Linked DNA regions of Homo sapiens. The gene in region 1 interacts genetically with each later gene. Each region holds a gene or a part of one and is shown on either strand. Other genes may lie near its edges. The genes, in order: FBXW7, OR51V1, GPN1, RPP40, TMEM126B, MASTL and CCNL1.

What was found.
Region 2: changes in FBXW7 (region 1) and OR51V1 are lethal when combined (synthetic lethality), as found in Homo sapiens cells (one study listed by BioGRID).
Region 3: changes in FBXW7 (region 1) and GPN1 together harm fitness more than expected from each alone (negative genetic interaction), as found in Homo sapiens cells (one large-scale study listed by BioGRID).
Region 4: changes in FBXW7 (region 1) and RPP40 together harm fitness more than expected from each alone (negative genetic interaction), as found in Homo sapiens cells (one large-scale study listed by BioGRID).
Region 5: changes in FBXW7 (region 1) and TMEM126B are lethal when combined (synthetic lethality), as found in Homo sapiens cells (one study listed by BioGRID).
Region 6: changes in FBXW7 (region 1) and MASTL are lethal when combined (synthetic lethality), as found in Homo sapiens cells (one study listed by BioGRID).
Region 7: changes in FBXW7 (region 1) and CCNL1 are lethal when combined (synthetic lethality), as found in Homo sapiens cells (one study listed by BioGRID).

Annotation. Positions count from the first base shown.
Region 1 is NC_000004.12:152,407,093-152,410,592, forward strand, and holds part of FBXW7 (F-box/WD repeat-containing protein 7), read right to left. Parts: intron 1-3,500. UniProt on the Homo sapiens protein: Substrate recognition component of a SCF (SKP1-CUL1-F-box protein) E3 ubiquitin-protein ligase complex which mediates the ubiquitination and subsequent proteasomal degradation of target proteins.
Region 2 is NC_000011.10:5,199,235-5,201,927, reverse strand, and holds OR51V1 (olfactory receptor 51V1), read left to right. Parts: upstream 1-1,245; coding exon 1,246-2,193; downstream 2,194-2,693. UniProt on the Homo sapiens protein: Odorant receptor.
Region 3 is NC_000002.12:27,639,050-27,642,549, forward strand, and holds part of GPN1 (GPN-loop GTPase 1), read left to right. Parts: intron 1-993; coding exon 994-1,076; intron 1,077-2,190; coding exon 2,191-2,230; intron 2,231-2,993; exon of another isoform or gene 2,994-3,120; intron 3,121-3,379; coding exon 3,380-3,470; intron 3,471-3,500. UniProt on the Homo sapiens protein: Small GTPase required for proper nuclear import of RNA polymerase II (RNAPII). May act at an RNAP assembly step prior to nuclear import.
Region 4 is NC_000006.12:4,997,628-5,001,037, forward strand, and holds part of RPP40 (ribonuclease P protein subunit p40), read right to left. Parts: intron 3,005-3,410; coding exon 2,936-3,004; intron 2,278-2,935; coding exon 2,182-2,277; intron 1,215-2,181; coding exon 1,089-1,214; intron 1-1,088. UniProt on the Homo sapiens protein: Component of ribonuclease P, a ribonucleoprotein complex that generates mature tRNA molecules by cleaving their 5'-ends. Also a component of the MRP ribonuclease complex, which cleaves pre-rRNA sequences.
Region 5 is NC_000011.10:85,634,315-85,637,036, forward strand, and holds the end of TMEM126B (complex I assembly factor TMEM126B, mitochondrial), read left to right. Parts: exon of another isoform or gene 1-1,191; intron 1,192-1,352; coding exon 1,353-1,464; intron 1,465-1,731; coding exon 1,732-1,915; 3' UTR 1,916-2,222; downstream 2,223-2,722. UniProt on the Homo sapiens protein: As part of the MCIA complex, involved in the assembly of the mitochondrial complex I. Participates in constructing the membrane arm of complex I.
Region 6 is NC_000010.11:27,168,852-27,172,351, reverse strand, and holds part of MASTL (serine/threonine-protein kinase greatwall), read right to left. Parts: intron 2,409-3,500; coding exon 1,269-2,408; intron 1-1,268. UniProt on the Homo sapiens protein: Serine/threonine kinase that plays a key role in M phase by acting as a regulator of mitosis entry and maintenance.
Region 7 is NC_000003.12:157,147,053-157,150,147, forward strand, and holds the end of CCNL1 (cyclin-L1), read right to left. Parts: coding exon 3,013-3,095; intron 2,926-3,012; coding exon 2,784-2,925; intron 2,545-2,783; coding exon 2,433-2,544; intron 2,334-2,432; coding exon 2,235-2,333; intron 1,538-2,234; coding exon 1,189-1,537; 3' UTR 501-1,188; downstream 1-500. UniProt on the Homo sapiens protein: Involved in pre-mRNA splicing. Functions in association with cyclin-dependent kinases (CDKs). Inhibited by the CDK-specific inhibitor CDKN1A/p21. May play a role in the regulation of RNA polymerase II (pol II).

The DNA.
Region 1 (3,500 bases):
AGTAATAGGTTCACTGAGATTATATACTCATGGTTATACAGTAAGTGGTATAATCAGAATTCAAACTCAGATGTGAAAAGTTCTTATCACTCTAATATGTTAGGGGAAAACCCATCTCACCCATTGTCCCCATTTCTCCCATTTCCATTATCCTCCCCACATGTTTAAAATTGGGCTAAATTAGGCTGAGTCAATGTTTCATTTTTCCTCCTTCACAAAGGTAGGGGACATGGCTATTCATTGGGCCATGTTTACTAGTGGATGTTATTCAAGATGACTGCCTTAAATAGCATTTTTTGCTCTCTGGACATGTATATACCAAACAGACTTTGAACTTAAGTTGCTTGTCTTGCAGGTAGACTAGGCCAGGGACTTTCTGAAGAAGCTATCATTCTCTAGAACTCTACAACAGAGTGTAACTTAGAGCCCTGTTATATTTCCAATGTTAGCCACATTATCCTACAAAGCTGCTCAGCAGCTCTGGTCCTAGGAGGTGGTTGGAGAATGGCGGACCAGATACCCTGATTGGTTAATGATCCTATTACCTGATTCCTCTATTGTTCAGAATTTATAGACAAGAAAGGGTCTTACGCCTCTAAACTCCAATACACTAGATGCTTCTCCACACCTCCCCCCACCCTCTATTTATTTATTCTGAAACAGGGTCTTGCTCTGTGGCCCAGATCACTGCAGCCTCAACCTCCTGGGCCCAAATGATCCTCCAACCTCAGCCCCCAAAGTAGCTGGAACCACAGGCGCATGCCATCACACTCAGCTAATTTTTGTATTTTTTGTAGAGACAGGGTTTTGCCATGTTGCCCAGGCTGGTCTCAAGCAATCTGCCCACCTCAGCCTCTCAAAGTGCTGGGATCACAGGTGTGAGCCACCACACCTGGCTATCTTTTATATATATTTATTTTTTGATAAACATTTATTTCTTATTTGAGGCAAATGGATAAAAACGATTTAATTACTAGGAAGAATCTAACAATCAAGATGGGAAAAAAATAGACTAATTTGAGGTAAGGAAGTTATGTGAGAAGAGAACAGGTGGAAGCCACTAAGATAGATATGGAAGCATCAGAAATTAATGCTCAAACACACTTCTCTTCATCAAAAGATCAGGATACCAGATCTGGCCTAATAATCATCTCATTTGTTTTTCATGTTAGTAGAAAATTAGTTGATATTCTGCATAAAATATGTCAAAGATTCTTCAATATGAGCTGGGCATATCTTCAGAAAACAACTTTTTTTAAAAAAATATGATAAGGATGTTGAGAATGAGAGTTAAAACTGAAGAGACAGACATTTGTATCTGGAGAAGCAAGATTTAGAGGAATAGCCAGCACACAACCTCTGCTTTAAAAGCATGTTTTATGGATTCAAGAGAGTATGACCTCTATAAAATTTTTTAACAGCGTCATTTGTTCCTGATTACTTTAGCCTTGAGCTGTAAAATCTTCAATAATGTTTTGTTAAGTGCCACAAAGAAAAGTAGTTAACTGAGCCCTCTGTCCTTTCTATAGGGTAGCTCTTATCACTTCAAATGGGACATAGTATCAGAAAATCATCACATGGCAGAGTCTCTGACTATGTTGGAAATCTTGTTCAGTGATGTTTGTCAAATTCAACCATAGGGGGCAGCATAGCATGTGGAAAGAGAAAGGGGTTTTTTGCTATTAGGCAAATCAGGATTAAAATCTCTCATCACGTAGTGTAATCTGGGGTGGATCATTCGGCCTCTCTGTAACTTTTGTTTATGTATCTGTAGTAGGATCTTTCAAACAGTGTGAGCTTAATAAATAGCAATTCTTGACTACCACTTCCCTTGACTTTTAACATTAAGACAACATGGAATTTTTAACATATATTGCTTGCCATAAGGCTCCCAAAAGAACAAACCTTTAGTGACAAGGGGGGAAAAACTGTCCTCAGAGTGTTGACAGTTTTCAGAATGCTTTCAAAGAATAAAGCAATGCAAGGAAGAATTAAAAATCTTTTTTTCTCATTAATATATTTGCTTATGCAGCATATTTAGGGATGATGGGTAAAATTCAGTCTAGCTGTCCACAGGGTTTGTTTATGAGAATGCCAAAAAATAAAACTTGAAAGGTATCCTGAGTAAAATTTGTAGAAAGCTAATCCTATGTTAACATTTAAAATGGGATTTCATTTCTTATGCCTCTACTCTCAAAAGTCAAAGAAGACTTGAATGAAACTATGGTCTAGGGTAACATCTGTAGAAGTGTCTTAACTTTATAATGATCAAGAATTTAAAGCTCTTCCAAAATAAAGTACTTCAACTAGTGAGAGCTTCTATTTATTGTATTAAAACATGTATACACGGAGAATACTGACATTTTCTTTTTAGGTGAAGCAGTACTCAGTGACTTTTTTTAATGCTGTTGAAAGTGCTCTGGGAATACTCTGGCAGAAGGGTTTCAGGAATGGACAAAAAGGAAAACATTTAGAAAAATTTCAGACTGAAATCTTACTTGTAGAAGGGTATCACTGTCCTGGCAATCAAATAGCTTTGTATTCTTCATGCCATACTTACGAAGGCAGATCATCTCATGATCAACAATATATCAAAAACTATACATACACACTTATATAATAAATGCATACACACATCTATACTGTACATGTGTATATACATAAATGCATACACACATCTATACTGTACATGTGTATATACATAAATGCATACACACATGTATTCCTTCTATGGTTAGAGCCCAGTCCATTCTTGTTATATGTACAGGACAATAATTGTTATTCATGATTCAGAATCACTAGAAAAAAACTAACAAATTCAGTATACTTCGTTTTTAAAAAGGTAATCATCATACACAAAATTTTACATCTTGAAGGTAAAGAAAAGATAAAGCACCTGTCAAACTTGTGAACTGGAAGGTTTCCTACAGAATATAAGGATGACTTTTCCTTTTGGAAAAAGATAATGTTTTGTCTAACTAGCTTTTTTTGCTTTTAATTTAAAGTGTAGCAGAAATCAGCAATAACTCTGCATTGTTCCGCAAGGCTTAGTTTTGATTGAACCTCTTTCTGAAATAAGTTAGTGCAATTGGACCTTAAGTATTAAACCCCTATTCCTCTAACTGAACCCTCAGGAAAAAAAGAGATGTTAAAACTCCCTTTTGATATAGCAACCTTGAAGAAGATGATCAAGACTAGGGGGGCAAAAGGGAGGAATGACACTATAAAAGGTCTGAGCCTTAACAAAGTGGTGCTATAGTTGTTAGTGGTAGAGCCATCTGGCTGAGATCCAAAGCTACTGCTTCAACATCTTGAGACAGGGATGGTACAATGGATGAAAAATCACTACTTGATGTCACGTCCTTCTTAGATCATGCCAGCTAAATAAAATCTGACTTGCAGATAGGCTAGGTAAATTAGGGCCAAACACATTTTAGAAAGTAAGGTTTTACAAGCAGATGTAAAACATGATTTAGCATTTCAATTATTATTAATCCAAG
Region 2 (2,693 bases), on another chromosome or scaffold:
TAAAAATAGTGAGCTAAGTTATTCAATGCTGAGAAGGAGTCAGGGCAAGAAAAACAATGGTTAGACTGCTAGAAGACGTCAGTGTAGTATAGAGAGTACATTGAGAAGAAAGTCTGTGGAACTGTGTTGTGAGGCTAATAAGACAAAGCTGAAAAGTAGGACATAAAGGGCAGCCCAAATCTGAAGTTACTTTAACATCTCGAAGTTACTCAATCAAACATGAAAGTATGGACTTTTGAACATCTGTTTACATTATTAGAGCTTTAAAAAAACTTATGATGATTCTCAGGTCTGGAACTTAAAGCAGGCAAACAATGTAAAGAAGAAGCCAATTGATTCTGCTACCATGAGGCTTTTGAAATTATAAGCTTGCTTGTTTGAGCCTGGCTTTGTGATCTGTAGAACTGCAGGTTCTAAGAAAGAAAACACAATTGGCCAATACATTGAATAAATGTATATTGAATAAATAGTTAATCAGCTCATTAACTGAATAAATAAAGGAATGGGAAGCACTGAGCTGCTATCAAAGGCTCAGTGTCTTCAATCTAATTCTCTACATCACAAAGGCACAAATGAGTTGAACATCTCAAGAGGCCAGAGCTCCAGTGAGAAATCATTTACCCAAGGTCTCATGCATAAATATTCCTGTCTGCTTATCACCAATGAAGAAAAAGTAATTGCTGGCTACGTCATCTGGAGGGGGAGAAAACAGGAGTATCTTCATTAAATAGTATTTGGAGAAAAAATATACTTGGAGACGGCACAAAATGGAAAATGACGGAAAAGTGACTATTTAATAGACTTATGATATTTAAAGCCCAAAGATTACTCTTCACTTCGAATGTTTAATGAATTGGAGAGAAGAAAATAATTTTTCAAGAACCTCGGCTCTTTACTGGTATAAAATTTTTACCACTATCCTTGGGAAAATGTCTAAGCAACGTATTTTTTTAAAACTAGCCTTCTCCTTTTACTAATCTCTTCCTTATTTGTTTTTGCTTATGGCTTCTAAGGATATGTTCACATCCAGACAGTGAAAAAATAATGACTTTTAAATGACATCAAAAGAAGACCATTTTCTCAAAGGCAATGGATACTATGTCTCAAAGAAACAGAATTTCTCAGCTGTTTTTTTTAAGTCAGTAAGTTTTAGGGTATTTCATTTACTTAGAAATTTCATTGTATTCAGGTGAAATTGAAACATTTCCTTTGAAAAAATACTCTCACATGTTTCTCAGTTCCAGAATGATTACTTCAGTAAGCCCTAGCACCAGCACGAATTCTTCCTTTCTTCTCACTGGATTTTCTGGCATGGAGCAGCAATACCCCTGGCTTTCCATCCCCTTCTCCTCAATCTATGCCATGGTGCTTTTGGGCAATTGCATGGTTCTCCATGTGATATGGACTGAGCCAAGCCTGCACCAGCCTATGTTTTACTTCCTGTCCATGCTGGCCCTCACTGACCTGTGCATGGGGCTGTCCACTGTGTACACAGTGCTGGGGATCCTGTGGGGGATCATTCGAGAGATCAGCTTGGATTCCTGCATTGCCCAGTCCTATTTCATCCATGGTCTGTCCTTCATGGAGTCCTCTGTCCTCCTCACTATGGCCTTTGACCGGTACATTGCAATTTGCAATCCACTACGTTATTCCTCCATCCTGACTAATTCCAGAATTATCAAAATTGGGCTCACTATAATAGGTAGGAGTTTTTTCTTTATTACACCCCCCATCATCTGTCTGAAATTTTTTAATTACTGTCATTTCCACATCCTTTCTCACTCTTTCTGCCTGCACCAGGATCTTCTCCGCTTAGCCTGTTCAGACATCCGATTCAATAGTTACTATGCCCTGATGCTGGTTATTTGCATACTGTTGTTGGATGCTATACTCATCCTTTTCTCCTACATCCTGATTCTTAAGTCAGTCCTGGCAGTTGCCTCTCAGGAAGAGAGGCATAAATTATTTCAGACCTGCATCTCCCACATCTGTGCTGTCCTTGTGTTCTACATCCCTATCATTAGCCTCACAATGGTGCACCGTTTTGGCAAGCACCTTTCCCCCGTGGCCCACGTTCTCATTGGCAACATCTACATCCTTTTCCCACCTTTAATGAATCCCATCATCTACAGTGTCAAGACCCAACAGATTCATACCAGAATGCTTAGACTCTTTTCTCTGAAAAGATATTGAGAGATATTGAGATGTATTGCCTAAAAAAAAGAAAGAAAAGCAGCAACAATAATAAACAAAAATCAGTGCCATAAAAAAGAAAAAATTATTAAAATTGTAGATTTACTCTGAGTCCATGACAAATGACCTTAAAAAATATTTAAATATAGTCAGAGAATCAACAAACAAGTTCCATTGTGTCAGCCTGGACACATGTAGGTCACTCTATCAGTCTGACCATATTTAAGAAAGAGGAAAAAATTGTTTATTTGCCTGAAATGTACTTTTGAGCATTTCCTTTGCTGTAAAACAAAGCTGGATTAAAAACCTAGGTTTTCAAGTTTCAAAGTAGAAAACTTGAAGTTTCTTTCATTCTCTGAGGTTTACTTAATTAACCTTCAAAATGGAGACTATAGCCAACTCACAGGAATGTTGTGATATCTGTATGGACCAGAATTGTCCAAGGGAACTTTTCTAAACTGATGGCGATGTTCTATAAAATACCATAAAATGGCTAAAGT
Region 3 (3,500 bases), on another chromosome or scaffold:
TCACACTGACAGCCTCTCCAGATAATCTGTTAACCCATAGGATTGGCTTTGAACCTGGCTGAGAAAGGAAGCTTATTACCTACTGAAAAGTAACTTTTAAAGCATTGCTTATTAAAAATTGTGGAGTGTACAAGAAGAATAAGATAGGGACCCCAGCTTCAGAGTTTATAGTCTATTTGGGAGAGAAGGCTACACACAGAATTAAAACATATGATATATTGTAGTAAGTACCTTAAGAAAGATTGGAAGTTGGGCCTGATGATTGTGAGGCGGCAGATCAAAATGACAGATTTTGGAGGATGTAGCATTAGAGGTATGCTTTGAAGAAGGGTAAGATTTATGTAAGCAAAGGCAGAATGGGTTAATTGCCCAAGGAAAGACATAGACAAAGCAGAAAGTGATTTGGTTTGGTTTGTTAGGGAATAGATAATAAGTCCTGTTAATTGTTCAGTCCTAATTATCTTTTTTTTTTCTTTTTTCCCTTTGGAGAGAGGATCTTGCTTTGTTTTACCCAGGCCAGAGTGTAGTGACAGGATCACAGCTCACTGCAGCCTTGACCTCGTGGTCTCAAGGGATCCTCCTGCCTCAGCTTACCAAGCAGCTAAGACTATAGGCGTGTGCGGTATACCATACCCAGCTAATTTTTTATATTTTGTAGAGACTGGGGTCTCGCTATGTTCCCCAGGCCAGTCTTGAATGCTTGGCCTCAAGTGCACCTCCTGCCTCAGCCTCCCAAAGTACTGGTAGTATAGGCATGTGCCACTGCACTCAGGCCATATCTTTCTTTTTCAATTTTTTATTTTCCATGGACTTATTTCTGTGACTTTTGACTGGGTGTGCTGTTTTGTTCTTTTTTAGCCTGGCTTTTTGCCAAAGACTTCTCAAAATATAAACCACTCTTACTAAGATTTTATGACATTTAAACAAGTTAATGTACTTCATTAAAAAATATACAATGGTTTCTTTAGTGGCATTTATGATGCTTTTTGGCAGGTGGTGGGTGTCTCTGCTGTTCTGGGTACTGGATTAGATGAACTCTTTGTGCAAGTTACCAGTGCTGCCGAAGAATATGAAAGGTGAGGATAAAGGAAAATTCTATTGATGACATTCTTAATAACCTACAATTCTGATATGAAAGCAGTTTTTCCAGGAAAAGCATTACATTTTCATGATGGATGTATTATATTTGGTTTGCATATGTGTATTGAATCAGACCACACTTAGGGGTGACAAGTTCCCTTTAAATTTTGTTTTTTTTAAATAGAAGTATAAATCTTCATTGTATTGAGTGATTAAGAGCAGGGATCATCAGACTTTTCTGTAAAGAGCTAAACAGTAGGTAGCTCAGGCTTTGTGGGTCATATAGTCTCTGTTGCAACTGCTCACGTCTGCCATTGTAGGACAAAAGCGTCCTCAGACAATTTGTAAATTAATGGGCGTGGCTAGTGTTACAGAAAAACATTTATGAAAACAGGCAGTGGGCTGGATTTGGCACTAAGGTTGTTGTGAAGATTGAGAAAACGTATACAGCACTTATCACAATTGCTGACATATAGTAAGCACATTTTATAATAAATGTTATAACTATTGTCATTGTTAATACTGGAATTCAAGTAAAGAAAAGTGGAGTCAGAGCCCTGTGCACTTTCCTTAGGCCTGTGGCATGATAGCCGGCTTATTAGTGTCATGTGTCTTTGGCTTCATATTTTGCAAGATCCTAACAACCATATTTTGGTTTTCAGACATGTTATTTTGATTTTGATTCATTAGACACAAGGGTGTTATCAAAACCTTAGGATAGACTCTTTTCTGTATCCTTTCACTGTTGTTGTTCAAGTAAAGCACATAATTGTATGTTGCACGTCCTGAGCTCAACAGGCTTATCTTTTACTTATCTCACCCTTTTATCTCAAATGAATGGTGAGTTCATCAGTCATGTTCTCACCAATATTAATCTTTCCAGCCCAGCAGTCAGGATTGTGTCTCCTGGTTCCAAGGTGGGAGCGGGCACCTTGGCTTTTAATTCCATTGGGTAGACTCTGTCAGTGACTAAGATTTGTTACATCTGATGTTGAATGAAGTCAGATGTTTTATTATTGTCAGTCTTAGGAAAATAGAGATAAGGGGATGTGGAGAGTCAGTAGGATAGAGGATTAAGCAAAGGAATTTAGAAAGTGTTTCTCTTTACAGGGAGTATCGTCCTGAATATGAACGTCTGAAAAAATCACTGGTAAGAAGGGAGGCTGTTTGTATATTTTAAAAGGGCCATTAAAAAAACCCAGCTCAATCTTGATGACATAAGTGCTTTTGTTTTGGTTATTAATGTATCTTTTATTTAATTAAAAAAGTTTTTTTTGTAGCTTTATTGAGGTACAAGTGGCTAATGAAATTTCAGTGTATCTTCTAAATACTTGTTAATTTAAATTTGTAAATTTGTATGTATGTTGTCTGGGTGCGGAAAGTCTCCTTAATGTTTCTTCCCTTTCAGAGGTCAATTTAAAGCTAGTTGTAGAATTTTGTATAAGAGTGTAGTGGTGCTTCACAACTCCTTTTCTTGTTGTTGAGAAAGGGTCTCACTCTGTCACCCATGCCAGAGTGCAGTGGCACGATCGCGGCTCACTGCAGCCTCGACCTTTTGGGCTTAAGCGATCCTCCCATCTCAGCCACCCGAGTAGCTAGGACAACATGTATGTACCACATGCCTGGCTAATTTTATTTTGTAAATTTTTTGTATAGACAAGGTCTCACCGTGTTGCCCAGGCTGGTCTCAAATTCCTGAGCTCCTGCAGTCCTCCCTGCTGGGCCTCCTGTAGTGCTAGGATTACAGGCAGGTGCCACCATGCCCAGCCTTCTCTTATCCCAAATGATCGAGTGTCCTGCTTCCTTAGGCTCATTGGATCCTTTGTCTCTGAGCCTTCCTGCTATGTCTACTTCAGGTTTTTGTGTTTTTTTTCCCCCATATAATAAAGTTTATTGTATCTTTTGTTTTTTCATTTTGTAGGCTGGGGATGAATAAAGAGTAATGCTTTCTATGTAGGCATTTTGCCTAGCCAGTTTAAATGTTCCAGTTCAATTAACAGAGCAGGGGATCCACCCTGGACTGAACTCAACACTTTAGAATTGAGGGTTCTTTTGAAACCTTTTTGTGTTCCGTTTCTGAACCCTCTAAATCAGTCTGCAGAGCCCTCCAGTCTAAACTTCTGCAGTAACCCAGGCCCACGCTACTTAGTGTTTCTGTCCCTATACCAGACGTCCCTTATCTGCATCAGTTTTTATGTAGCCTCTAGTATTTGTATAATTCTTCATCTCCACTGAGAAGTCTGGCATCTAATTTGGGACTCCTTTTTGAATATGATGACATTTTTCTCTGTATATACAGGCCAACGCAGAGAGCCAACAGCAGAGAGAACAACTGGAACGCCTTCGAAAAGATATGGGTTCTGTAGCCTTGGATGCAGGGACTGCCAAAGGTATTGGAGGGTTTCTTGGTGTTAGGAACT
Region 4 (3,410 bases), on another chromosome or scaffold:
CCCTAATAAATCTCCTCTCATCCATCCATCCATCCATCCATCCATCCTATTGGTCCTTTCTCTCTGGAGAACCCTGACTAATACATTTTGGCTACTACCATTCCTCTGAGGAATTAAGTCCTGTGTCTCTGACCCAGGGCTTATGTGTCTTCTGCCAGCATCCCTGAGACTGTAGCAGGCTACCTAGTTAGCCTGCAAGTATGAGGAAATCTCAGAACTTTCACAGTCCTGACAAATCCTTAAAATAGTTAGGAGCTTTAGGAATAGGGAGCTATCCAGAATCCAACGTCTGGATGATCTGCATAGAAGACTTCACGCAACTGAAACTTCAATAAGCCTTTCTGCCCTCTTTTCTATCTACCATATATGGAAGGAGAGGCACCGAAGGCCAGACCTAGGACTCATGGGAGCAACTTGGAGCACCCAGTGACGAGACACTTCCCATGAGGAGCAGACAGATGGGGCTATTTCTAAAACAGACCACCATGCTTCCTATCCTCCAAAAGAGAGTACTACACCATAATTCCTGATGACTTGATCCATTATTATCTGGGTCAAAGATACACTTCTAAAAGGAGCAACATACATGGCCGTTTTAGGCAGATTACGCTGTGTGGTGAATAGCAAACTTTGAACTAAATTTAGTGTCCTAATCAATTAAAAGTTAGAATAAATTCATCTGACATTTAATGGTAGGCCTGAGTCAGTACCCTGTGATAATAAATAAGCAGATTGTGTATATAATTGGTGCTACTTAAAAATATTATAGTCAAGGCTGTTCAAGGTAAGCTGGAGAGAGGAAAGGGGAGAAATAGATAAAATTTAGCTGCTCTGAAGCCACTCTCAAGATCTCTGGATCTACATATAACCCAAAGAGACGCAGGCAGAAAGGCCTGCGTGCCTACATGATCCTGAACTATGGTTTTCAGAGATGTCAGAAGGGCTAGTTTCCTTAATAATATTTTTATATATACGTATAGAATATTCCTTGACTAAAGAGTGAATCACCATTCAATCCTCCATTACTCCTCTTTAATTAACAATTACTTTCAAAATCACTGTATCATTACATAATTTATTCCTCATACCTGTTTTATGCCAAGCCAAAAGAAAATCAAATTTCAATGGCTTCTTTTCTTTGAAAGACCAAGATATTCTTTCATACTTCTTAGAATCCAAGTTTAAGGATAATTCCATCAAATCAATGGAAACAACTTTAAAAATGAAAAAAAGAACATATATTTCATTCATATACGTACAGCTTCTACCATGGAAAAAGTGTTACATTTTTAAAAACTAGAATTTTGGGAAATTTTATGGATAGTAAAATTATTTTATTCTTCTTCCACTCCCTTTGGTTTGCCAAATAAATAAGATCCCTTTGGTGGGCACTTCTAACCTTGAGAGCTAATAAAAACAGACATTTTCAATTTATATGTTTCCTAGGTCAAAGACCAAGGGCAGAGGACCTTGAGAGGTCAGGTTTAATCTACTTATGGATGTGGCGGCCTTAGCTATTGATGTTCGAGCCAGACGCTGTCAGCAAAACATCTCTTCACTCATGGGTGAATTTCTACTAGTAATCATAAAGACTTGGGGAAACCAAAGGAAATTCTTTATTAAGAATAAGTTGTAGACTCCTATCTTGGGTTCAGTACTTGGAATTTTTTTTTTTTTTTTTTTTTTTTTTGAGATGGACTCTCACTCTGTCGCCAGGCTGAAGTGCAGTGGTGCGATCTTGGCTCACTGCAAACTCCCCCTCCCGGGTTCAAGCAATTCTCCTGCCTCAGCCTCCTGAGTAGCTGGGACTACAGGCATGCGCCACCACGCCCAGCTAATTTTTGCATTTTTAGCAGAGATGGGGTTTCGCCATGTTGGTCACAATGGTCTCAATCTCTTGACCTCATGATCCGCCCGCCTTGGCCTGCCAAGGTTTAACCCGAAACATATATATTTAATTGACCAGTCCAAGTCTACAATCTTTATTAAATGCATCTACAGCTGAAAAGAAATGAACTTAAAAGCATCATCCTATCCTCTGTGAAGCTCGAGTCAGAAGTTTGACAGATTTTTTTTAAAAGGCCACATTTTTTTGAACAAAGAGATTAGAGGCAATTCAAACATTTAAATTTAAATTGCCACAAGAAGATTAGAAACAGATGGAACACACATGATACTTACTAAATTTCATAATTTTTCTGCCAGAAAACTGAGATGGATGACCCTGAAGTCCAGTTTCTTCATAAGTGTCTTTATCCAGTGACAAAATTAATTTCCCTATAAATCAAATAATAACTCCCATAAGATACCAAAACTAGAACTTACGTTGTCTGACTAAAAGAAAGCAAGGCAAATTGAGCAGTTAGATATCAATGTAACAAACTGCATACAAGGATCTTATTTATATCACAAGAATATTATTTATGTGTATACATGTCTTGTAACAGATATTATTTATACATTATACATCCAAGGATATTATTTATAATAGTGAAATTTAAAATAATCTGAATTTCTACTAAAGATGAAATAAATAAGTCATGGTATACTCATTCTTTTGAATATCTTCTTTTTTTTTTTCAGACAATCTCATTCTGTCTCCCAGGCTGGAGCGCAGTGGCGCAATCTTGGCTCACTGCAACCTCCGCCTCCCAGGTTCAAAGCGATTCTCCTGCCTCAGCCTCCCAAGGAGCTGGGACTACAGGCATGAGCCACCACGCCGGCTAATTTTTGTATTTTTAGTAGAGGCAGGGTTTCACCATGTTGGCCAGGCTGGTCTCGAACTCCTGACCTCAGGTGATACACCTGCTTTGGCCTCCCAAAGTGCAGGGATTACAGGCGTGAGCCACCGTGCCCAGCTGACTTTTTTTTTTTTTTTTTTACAGTATGCATTTTTTTTTAACAATTAAAGAAAGATGAAAAAATAAAGTGTTACCATTTGGTAGCAGGGCAACAGTATTATCTTCATCAATATGTGTATTGTATGTTAGTGCATAGCAAGAACCTGGAAGAGAAAGTACAGAGGAAAAATTTAAAACAAGAAATTACACCTGCAAGATGTTAGTGGATTATTTTTACAAGATAACCAGTCTTCCGGGTCATTAAAGGTCAGTTTCTACCCCTGCTCCAGCTCACTCAATAAACCAAACATCTGCTAAGGGTAAGCTGCAGCATGCAGAAGACCAAGCATGCAGAAGACCAAGCATGCAGAAGACCAAGCATGCAGAAGACCAAGCATGCAGAAGACAAAGCTTGCAGAAGACCAAGCATGCAGAAGACCAAGCATGCAGAAGACCAAGCATGCAGAAGAACAAGCATGCAGAAGACCAAGCATGCAGAAGACCAAGCATGCAGAAGACCAAGCTTGCAGAAGACCAAGCTCCAGCTAGTTCACTCCCTGACCAACAGCC
Region 5 (2,722 bases), on another chromosome or scaffold:
GTCTAAGTAAAGTTACTTATTAACATATACTGTTGCTACTGCTAATAATAATTCTTTACATTTATATATTGCTATACAGTTTACAAAGTCCATATACCTTGTCATATTTAATCCCTGCAACAATCCTCCTAATCAGGTAAACTGTATTTTTTTATTTCTGTAGATAAGCAACCCAAACTGAGGCATGTTCAAGTACGCTAATAAGCAACATACTGGGAAAAGAATTGGCTGTGGCATACAACGCACATCATTTCAGTATGCTACCTCCTGCCACTTAAGTTTTGTGACATTCAGTAAGGCATTTCATCTCTGAGCCTCCGTTGTCTTATCTATAAGTTAGGACTAATAGTACTTACCTCACAGGATTGTTGTGAGAATTAAAAGATACTGTAGGTTAAATGACTACCACAATATCTGTCATATTATGGGCTTTTAATGTTATTTCCTGCCCCTCACCTTACCTTGAGTTTCACAACTAGTAATTGATAGAGCATCTATCCCTTGTTCATTCTTCAGGTTCCTGCTTAAGTATCTTTTCCCCAGGGAGACCTCTGATTGCCTCATTGTACACTAGGTGTCTGGATACATTCTCTATATAGTTTATCTTCAAAGTATTGTGTACACTGATAATTATCTATTTAAATATTTATCTCGTGTCTTTCATCTCTGTAAACTGGCCAGAAGGTCAGAGATCAGGTCTCTTTTATGTACCACCGTATTCCTAGCTCCTAGCACGTTCCTGATATATAGTAGATAATAAAAATGTATTAACCTAGAATCCAGGTCTGGTTTGCTAGTTTAGTATTGTCATTATAAAATTGTTTCTGGCTGGGCACGGTGGCTCATGCCTATAATCCCAACACTTTGGGAGGCCAAGACAGGCAGATCACTTGAGGTCAGGAGTTCGAGACCAGCCTGGCCAACACAGTCTCTACTAAAAATAGAAAAACAGTTGAGCATGGTGGTGCAAGCTTATAATCCCAGCTACTTGGGAGGCTGAGGCATGAGAATTGCTTGAACCCTGGAGGCAGAGGTTGCAGTGAGCCGAGATCGTGCCACTGTACTCTAGCCTGGGCAACAGAGTGAGACTCCGTCTCCAAAAAATAAAATAAAATTGCTTCTACAACAACCACATACGTTAGAGGTAATTCTCTATGTGATAAAGTATAATAAAAACTTTTTAAAATGTGCTGCATTTGGCCTGTTATATGCCACAGAGTTTGAATTTCTAATATTCTTTCTATGGTTTAGTTGTGGTTGAGGATAGTGCAGATAACTACTCTGTGAGGTACAACACTGTCTTAATAGCTCTTGAGTTTTAAAGGAAAACCAAATTTACTTTTGTTTTCCAGATAATATAAGCAAGGAAAACTGTGTTTTCAGAAGCTCACTGATTGGCATAGTTTGTGGTGTTTTCTATCCCAGTTCTTTGGCTTTTACTAAAAATGGACGCCTGGCAACCAAGTAAGTTCTTCCTTTTCCTTCTTTTTTCTTTTCTTTTCTTTTCTTTTTTTTTTTTTTTTTTAGGTTAATAAACTCTCTTTCTTCTTTAGCTGTCTATGATATATTTGAATCAAAATGTGGTAGTTTGGTATTTCAGATAGCTAACTTTTAACTTTTTTGCTCTCTACATTATAGATCTAGAAAGGCAATTATCAATTTAGGAGAAGTCAACAAACTTCTAATAGCATTCATATCCAGGAGAGGTGATTAACTCTTTTTTCTTTTTAGGTATCATACCGTTCCACTGCCACCAAAAGGAAGGGTTTTAATCCATTGGATGACGCTTTGTCAAACACAAATGAAATTAATGGCGATTCCTCTAGTCTTTCAGATTATGTTTGGAATATTAAATGGTCTATACCATTATGCAGTATTTGAAGAGACACTTGAGAAAACTATACATGAAGAGTAACCAAAAAAATGAATGGTTGCTAACTTAGCAAAATGAAGTTTCTATAAAGAGGACTCAGGCATTGCTGAAAGAGTTAAAAGTAACTGTGAACAAATAATTTGTTCTGTGCCTTTTGCCTGGTATATAGCAAATACTCAAAAAGTATTCAATAATTCAATCAATAAATATAAGTTTCATCTTACACGTAAGATACAGGTCTTATCTCCTGATGGTGTGTCCATTTTGCCTGGTATATAACAGATAATAAATATCCAGTGTCAATAAATGTAACAATAAAAGTTTCATCTTTCCTCTTTGTATGTGGAAATGGGTTTGGGCTTTAAGGTCTCATCTGTGCAGTTATATATTCATTCATTCATCAAACATTTATTGAGCTATTTCTCAGGCACTGTGTTAAATATAATAAGAAACATTCTGGCTGGGCATGGTGGCTCTCGCCTGTAATCCCAGCACTTTGGGAGGCCAGGGAAGGCGGATCACCTGAGGTTAGGAGTTTGAGACCAGCCTGGCCAACATGGCAAAACCTCGTCTCTACTAAAAGTACAAAAGAATTGGCTGGGCATGATGGTGTATGCCTGTAATCCCAGTTACTTGGGAGGCTGAGGCAGGAGAATCGCTTGAACCCAGGAGGCGGAGGTTGCAGTAAGCTGAGATCTCACCACTGTGCTCCAGCCTGGGCAACAGAGCAGAACTCCATATCAAAAAAAAAAAAAAGAAAGAAAACAAACATTCCTTACCTAGAAGGAACTCAATTGAGGAGGAGTAAGTGTGAACACATACTATGAGAGGATTTGAGAGGTATACACA
Region 6 (3,500 bases), on another chromosome or scaffold:
GTGCCATTATCCCTTACAGACATTTAGAAAAATTGCAGGTCTGAGGTTAAGGGACTTCTAAGTCATTTAATAGTAAGTCTTGGGTAGAAAACTCAAGTTTCGAAACATAAATTCAGGGGTTACACATTTTATGTTATGATGTTTTCCCAAAGGAAGAAAAAAAGTAAAACTTTGGGTTGGTAAAGGTTTAGAATATAGAGAGTAAGCTTTGAAATATATATTTTTCGCTGGGCATGGTGGCTCATGCCCGTAATCCCAGCACTTTGGGAGGCCAAGGCAGGCAGATCACAAGGTCAAGAGATCGAGACCATCCTGGCCAACGTGGTGAAACCCCATCTCTACTAAAAATACAAAAATTAGCTGGGCATGGTGGCACATGCCTGTAGTCCTAGCTACTCAGGAGGCTGAAGCAGGAGAATCGCTTGAACCCGGGAGGCGGAGGTTGCAGTGAGCCAAGATCGCGCCACTGCACTCCAGCCTGGTGACAGAGCGAGACTTTGTCTCAAAAAAAAAAAAAAAAAAAAAAGAAACATATTTTTCAACTTTTATTCTCTTAAGAAGAGATCATCTAAATATGTCCTTGGAAGGCAGTAAGGTAGAGCGGACTTAAATTATCTCTGGCCAGGTGAGGTGGCTCACACCTGTAATCCTAGCACTTTGAGAGGCCGAGGTGGGCGGATTGCTTGAGGTCACGAGTTTGAGATCAGCCTGGGCAACATGGTGAAATTCCGACTCTACTAAAAATACAAAAATTAGCCAGGTGTGGTGGTGGGCCCCTTATAATCCCAGCTACTTGGGAGGCTGAGGCAGGAGAATCGCTTGAACCTGGGGGTGAAGTGTGCAATGAGCCAAGATCACACTACTGCACTCCAGCCTGGGCAAAAGAACGAGACTGTCTCAATAATAATAATAATAATAATAATAATAATAATAATAATAATTTTGTAACTCATAGTACTGTGGGGATCAAGTGAAAATTAATTTTGTAACTCATAGTACTGTGGGGATCAAGTGAAAATATGTGATTGTATTTTCTTAGGAAAGTACATAAAACGACACAAATGGAAGGAGGCATTACAGCTAAAAATAATAAACATGATTTCTACCAGCTTTACTTTTCTGGGTGAAAACTTCCAACAGCCCACAGATTCTCAACAAGAAGAACAGAACTATATGATTAATACCGCATAGTCTAGCTTAGAGGCAAATGTCTGTCTTCATAGTTTTTCTAAAATCCAAAAAACAGTATTAGAAAGTTATAAATATACCTGATGTGGCATACAGGATCTTCTTTTTTGAGTAGGGGTTATAGCCATGGGATATGAACCACTGTAGGCACACGAAATATCCATTGCATCTAAAGAAGTCATGTTCATTCTGGATGGTTCTGAGTTATTGGATGCATTAATATGACTGTTAAAACTTCGAAAAGCAACAGCATTTCTTTTAGAGGCTAACGTTTTCAGCACCTCCAAAGGAGGACCTAACATTTTTTGGTTACTCTCTTGTACAGCAGGGTTCTCGACACCTTTTGGTGAGGTCTTTTCTTGGCAATCTGGTGTTACAATAAGTGGATCTTCAATATTTGATTCTTCAAAAGAGGATTCTTTGATGCTTCTATCTGAATCTAAGGGCTGACTTTCTAATGGACTTTCCATTATAGAAATTCCAGGAAAAGATGAATCAGAGTTCATAGAAATATTTTTAGAAGCTCTATCATCATCAGAACATAGAAAACTAGAACTTAAGTAGTCCCTCTTACTATTCTTTTCACAGTCTTCATCGAGTTCACACATAAGGTTTTTTGCTATCATTGGTATAGGTAATTTTTCTGGTGTTTGTTGTTTATCAGTAAAAGAATTGACAATGTTCTCCTTATTAGCACAGTCATTTTGTTGACTTTTGTGCACTGATAGCTTAAGGTCCTGCACTTCAACTGTTAAGCCTGTATTTTGATTTGTATAACAATTTGTCATTTCGTTATGCTTATACTCTACACAAGTTTTTTTATTCTGTATAATTTTTTTACAAGGACTGGAGTCAACCAACTCAAAATTTCTTTTTAAACTTCTTTTCCCAAGGTGCTCTTCAGATATCCCACCAGAATCCACAGCCCACTGATTTGACTGATGGAAACCTAACTGACTTGTGTCAGTGTCCATATTTATATTATTTACATCCAGTTCTACTGCTTCCCAAGAAACTTCCCCAGAGAAGCATTTTTTAGCAAGGTTTACACAAGAGCGTCCAGTGGTGGGAAGGGCACTGCTGTTATGAATGGGAGAAAGAGCTAACTCCAGATCCTTTTTATTGAAACCTTTCGTCTCAATGGCATTTGCAGATTTTGCGCATAACTTTTCAACTGCATTCCAACTCATCATTGTTGGGCCCAATGCTTCATCACTTTCCTAAGAGGGAAAAAAATATTTGTTTTAGTTATATAAAGCTGAGATTCATTGACCTTTTAACTATGGTCCGTTAAGGTAGGATAAATGACCCCATAAACTATTATGCTACCTGTTGCCACTTTCAAATGGAAAAAATAAACAACAGAGAATTAAAAAGCAATGTAAGCAATTATAAGCTTATATACATTATTCTGAATGAAACGGTCTAAACTTTAAATAAATTATTCTATAATACTTATTTTGATTGTATATCACAGGCTACTTAAACAGGACAAATTAACAGGCAACATATTCAGGCACATTTTGGGGTAAGGCTGCATTACGTACATATCTATTTTGCAATAGGTATATGGATGATTCTGTTTTTTTTTTTTTTGAAATGGGGTCTTGCTGTCGTCCAGGCTGAAGTGCAGTGGTGCGATCTCAGCTCACTGCAGCCTCTGCCTCCTGGGTTCAAGCAATTCTCCCACCTCAGCCTCCCAAGTAGCTGGGATTACAGGGGCACACCACCACACCTGGCTAATTTTTGCATAATTTTTTTTAAGTGGAGATGGGGTTTCACTATGTTGGCCAGGCTAGTCTCAAATTCCTGACCTCAGGTGATCCACCTGCCTAGGCCTCCCAAAGTGCTGGGATTACAGGTGTAAGCTACCACACCTGGCCTGGATGATTCTGTTTTGAACTGCAAAATGCACAGGGCTTGAAATTTAGTCAATGAAAAATTATAGACCTAAAATATTGTCAGTGTAAATATATATCACTTCATATAAGTATTAAAAAACCAAGCTGATAAGGATGAAATGACATTAATGGTAATTAATAATTACAAACCCCAAAGAGCAGAAATTAAAGTCCATTGTCAACAAGATGAACTGATAATGCATTAATAATGATTTTTTTTTCTGAATTCCAACTATCTGTGGGTATTTGTGGGTACTCAGCTTTGTATATAATATTGCAAATTGGTGCTTGGTGATCAAGATTTTTACAAGATTAGTCAAGTAGAGTGAGTCTTCAGTAAACTCTAATAGTGCTTATTTTTGATGTGTAAATGAATAGTAAACTTTATTAACTATCATTAACTTAGTAATA
Region 7 (3,095 bases), on another chromosome or scaffold:
TAACTTTATTTTTAAAAATATCCTTAGCAGTAATACATCTTCCTCTTTGTGGGTGTATTTTATTTCTTGAAACAGCAACAAATCACTTGGAGCCAAGTCTAGTGGACAATTAAAGTAGGTAAAATAAATGTAATGGAGACCTTAGTGTAATTATAAAGCGATGCAACATTTTGACTCTGTAAACTGATTTCCAAAATGTTGAAAAAAATAGTAAATGTGAGTAACTTGAAAACATTCATCTGGATAGAAATTCCGGCTTTTTCATCAAAACTTCACTTCTTTGTGATCAGCTTGTATTCTATCAACCACTCAAGTTCAGGGGCCTCACATTTTCTCCTAGCCTACGTAAAAATCGTAACATTAAATGCCTAAATTATACAGAACTGTTAAAGCTCAATAGTTACTAAGTTTTGGTTCATTCAATAGGGTACCTCATTTCAGAAATAGTACTTAAATCTGACTCAAAATTACCTTATGACACCATTCAAAAGCAAATCAGGTTTTTTGGTTTAGTGCTAAAATATAACATTTAATGTCACATTGTTGGGCGACTCCCATTTACTTTTTCCATATATACAGTGAAGACTTACAATAGCTCACAATGCAGTTAAGAATTGCATTTTAATAATCTCAAACTACCATCTAATGGAGGAAAGAATAAGTTTGTCAGAAAACCAGTACAGCCATTTTGCTATTAAAATTTTCCTTTTTAATAATTTATTTAAATAAGGTATTTGAAGCAGTTTAGAAAAAACAAGATTTGTATTTTATTTCCTTGTAAAAATCTTTACACATGCAGACAAACCAGTGTTAAGAAAGTATTCACCATCATTTAAACAAATAACCACTTAAATAGAACAGTGTCTGCAATTTTATCTGTATAAAAATAAGATACATTTTTACAGAATTCACGCTCCAGTTCTTATAGCAATAAACAATACACAACTATAATAAAGTACAATTGAACCTGACCATGGTTTTTAATTAGATACTGCTAGGGCATTTTAATGTGCAAAAAAATTAACATAGTTCTTTTCAAAAGAAACTGTCCTCAGTGTTCTAGAGACCTAGAGGGTTTCAAGAAATCAAATCCTAATCAGTTTGCGTTTAATGTTTTTGATTGAGTCCATACATCACACTGTAGATAGGCAAAACCAAGAACTGATGCAGGCTCAAAGGAAGAGAAAGTCAGCGCCTGTGCCTGCCATGTCCTGAGCGACTGCCACCATGGTGCTTGCTTTTATGGGACCTCTCAAAGGAGCGAGATCGTTCACGCCTGTCCCTATGATGTCCCCTTTCATGCCTGTGTTTCTTGGCTGCATCTGAGTGATCCCGAGACTTGCTCTGAGATCGAGAACGAGATTTTTTCCTTTTATGACCATGTCTGTTTGAACTTTTTAAATCATCTCTGGTATGCTTGGCCTTAAGGTGAGGAGAACCATGATTATGATGTCTTCGAGGGCTTTCACTGTGACTGCGGGACCTGCTTCTTGATCTCGAGCTGTATGTTCCAGATCGACTCCGCCTATTATTATAGCTTAGATAATAAAAATTTGAAGTTTAGGTTCAGTTTCTATGGGGAACAGATTATTCCGGTGGTTGCTCATAACAGGTTCAAAACAAAACTACCAGCTACATAAATGACAAACCAGAACTTTTCAAAATCTCCCCACCCCTCACTGCTGTATGCCCAAGCCTATATATAACATATTAAATCTTAAGCAAATGTTCTTATGTCTTTATTCCAAGGGGAGTAATTAGCAATTTTTATAGTGTCCTAGAGCTATGCTTTTTATTAAGTATCTCCCACATGTTCAAAAGACATTGAAGAGCCACGAAGAGCTAACAATCTAATTACAGGCCTAACTAAAGAAGATTCATTGACTGGTTAATTTGATTATTGGTTATTAATAAGGGGTTAATGAAACACATTTTCTAACTGAAATTAAAAAAAAAAAAAGAAGTTTTCACATTATGAACAATACTATGGCCCTCAAGCACTTTGTGGGTAGCTCCTACACTTCTCCAAAAAACATGGGAGAAAATATAACAGAATGCCATTAAGATACTGTATGTCCAGAACATCTCCAAACTCATTTCTCATAATTTGCCTCATACTAAAAGCCTAATTCTAACCTAACTTTGAAAATAATCTATGTTCAATTTTTAAAGAAAAAGCAATAACCTTTAAAAACTCCAAATAAGACTGCTTCCCTAAGAAAACATTTACTTACTGTCTTCTTGGAGTATGTGATCTAGAACGTGATCGTGTTCTTGACCTCGATCGACTTGCACTTCTGCTATTTCTACTTCTCTTGCTGTCTTTTCTTACACTTCAAAAAATCATGACATATTAGTTACAAACTTAGTGTGTTAAAAAGTAAACACATAAAAGATTCCTCAAGCCAGTTTTCCAGCCCAAGTATACTCACCCATTGTAAGGGCTTTTGGAAGCCTGTTGTCTATCCTCAGGTTCTTTTTTGACTGTCTTCACATTAATGGAGATTGGTGATTTCTCTTCAGCTTTTACTTCTCTTGGTGATGCTTTTAAAAGATATAATAACAACATGTTAACTACTGGATTTAACAGAGGGCCAAAAGTTGTTTCTAAATGTAACTCAAAGTACCATGCTTCCGCTTCCATGTTGGTTGACTGCCATGAGAGAACATAGCAGCAGTTTCCTAACATCATTTTTCTCTATGCAACTTTCAAATGTAAAAGCTCTCTAATAAAGACACACTTTCAGTGCCCCCAAGTCATTTTAATTCTAAATACATCTTACATGGCTTGGAGGCTGGAGAAAATCCACCCAGGGTTGAAAGGGCTGGAGTTCCATCCGGATTCAATCCCTTTGCTTTTAATTTGGCTTCTTGTAAGGCTACTTTTCTTTTTTCTACTTCTTTTTCCAGTAATTCATAGTTTGGCTGTTGGAGGAAAAAAAAGTTAGTATTTCTTCCTTAGAGTAGCTTGGACTCTTAGCATGTTGGCACAAACGAGTAAATAGAGAATACCTTTTTTCTGGTATAAAGCCTAAGTGTTTCTATGCAGATTTCCTGGATTTCCTCTTCTGTAGTACCAAAAAGAAGAAACCAAT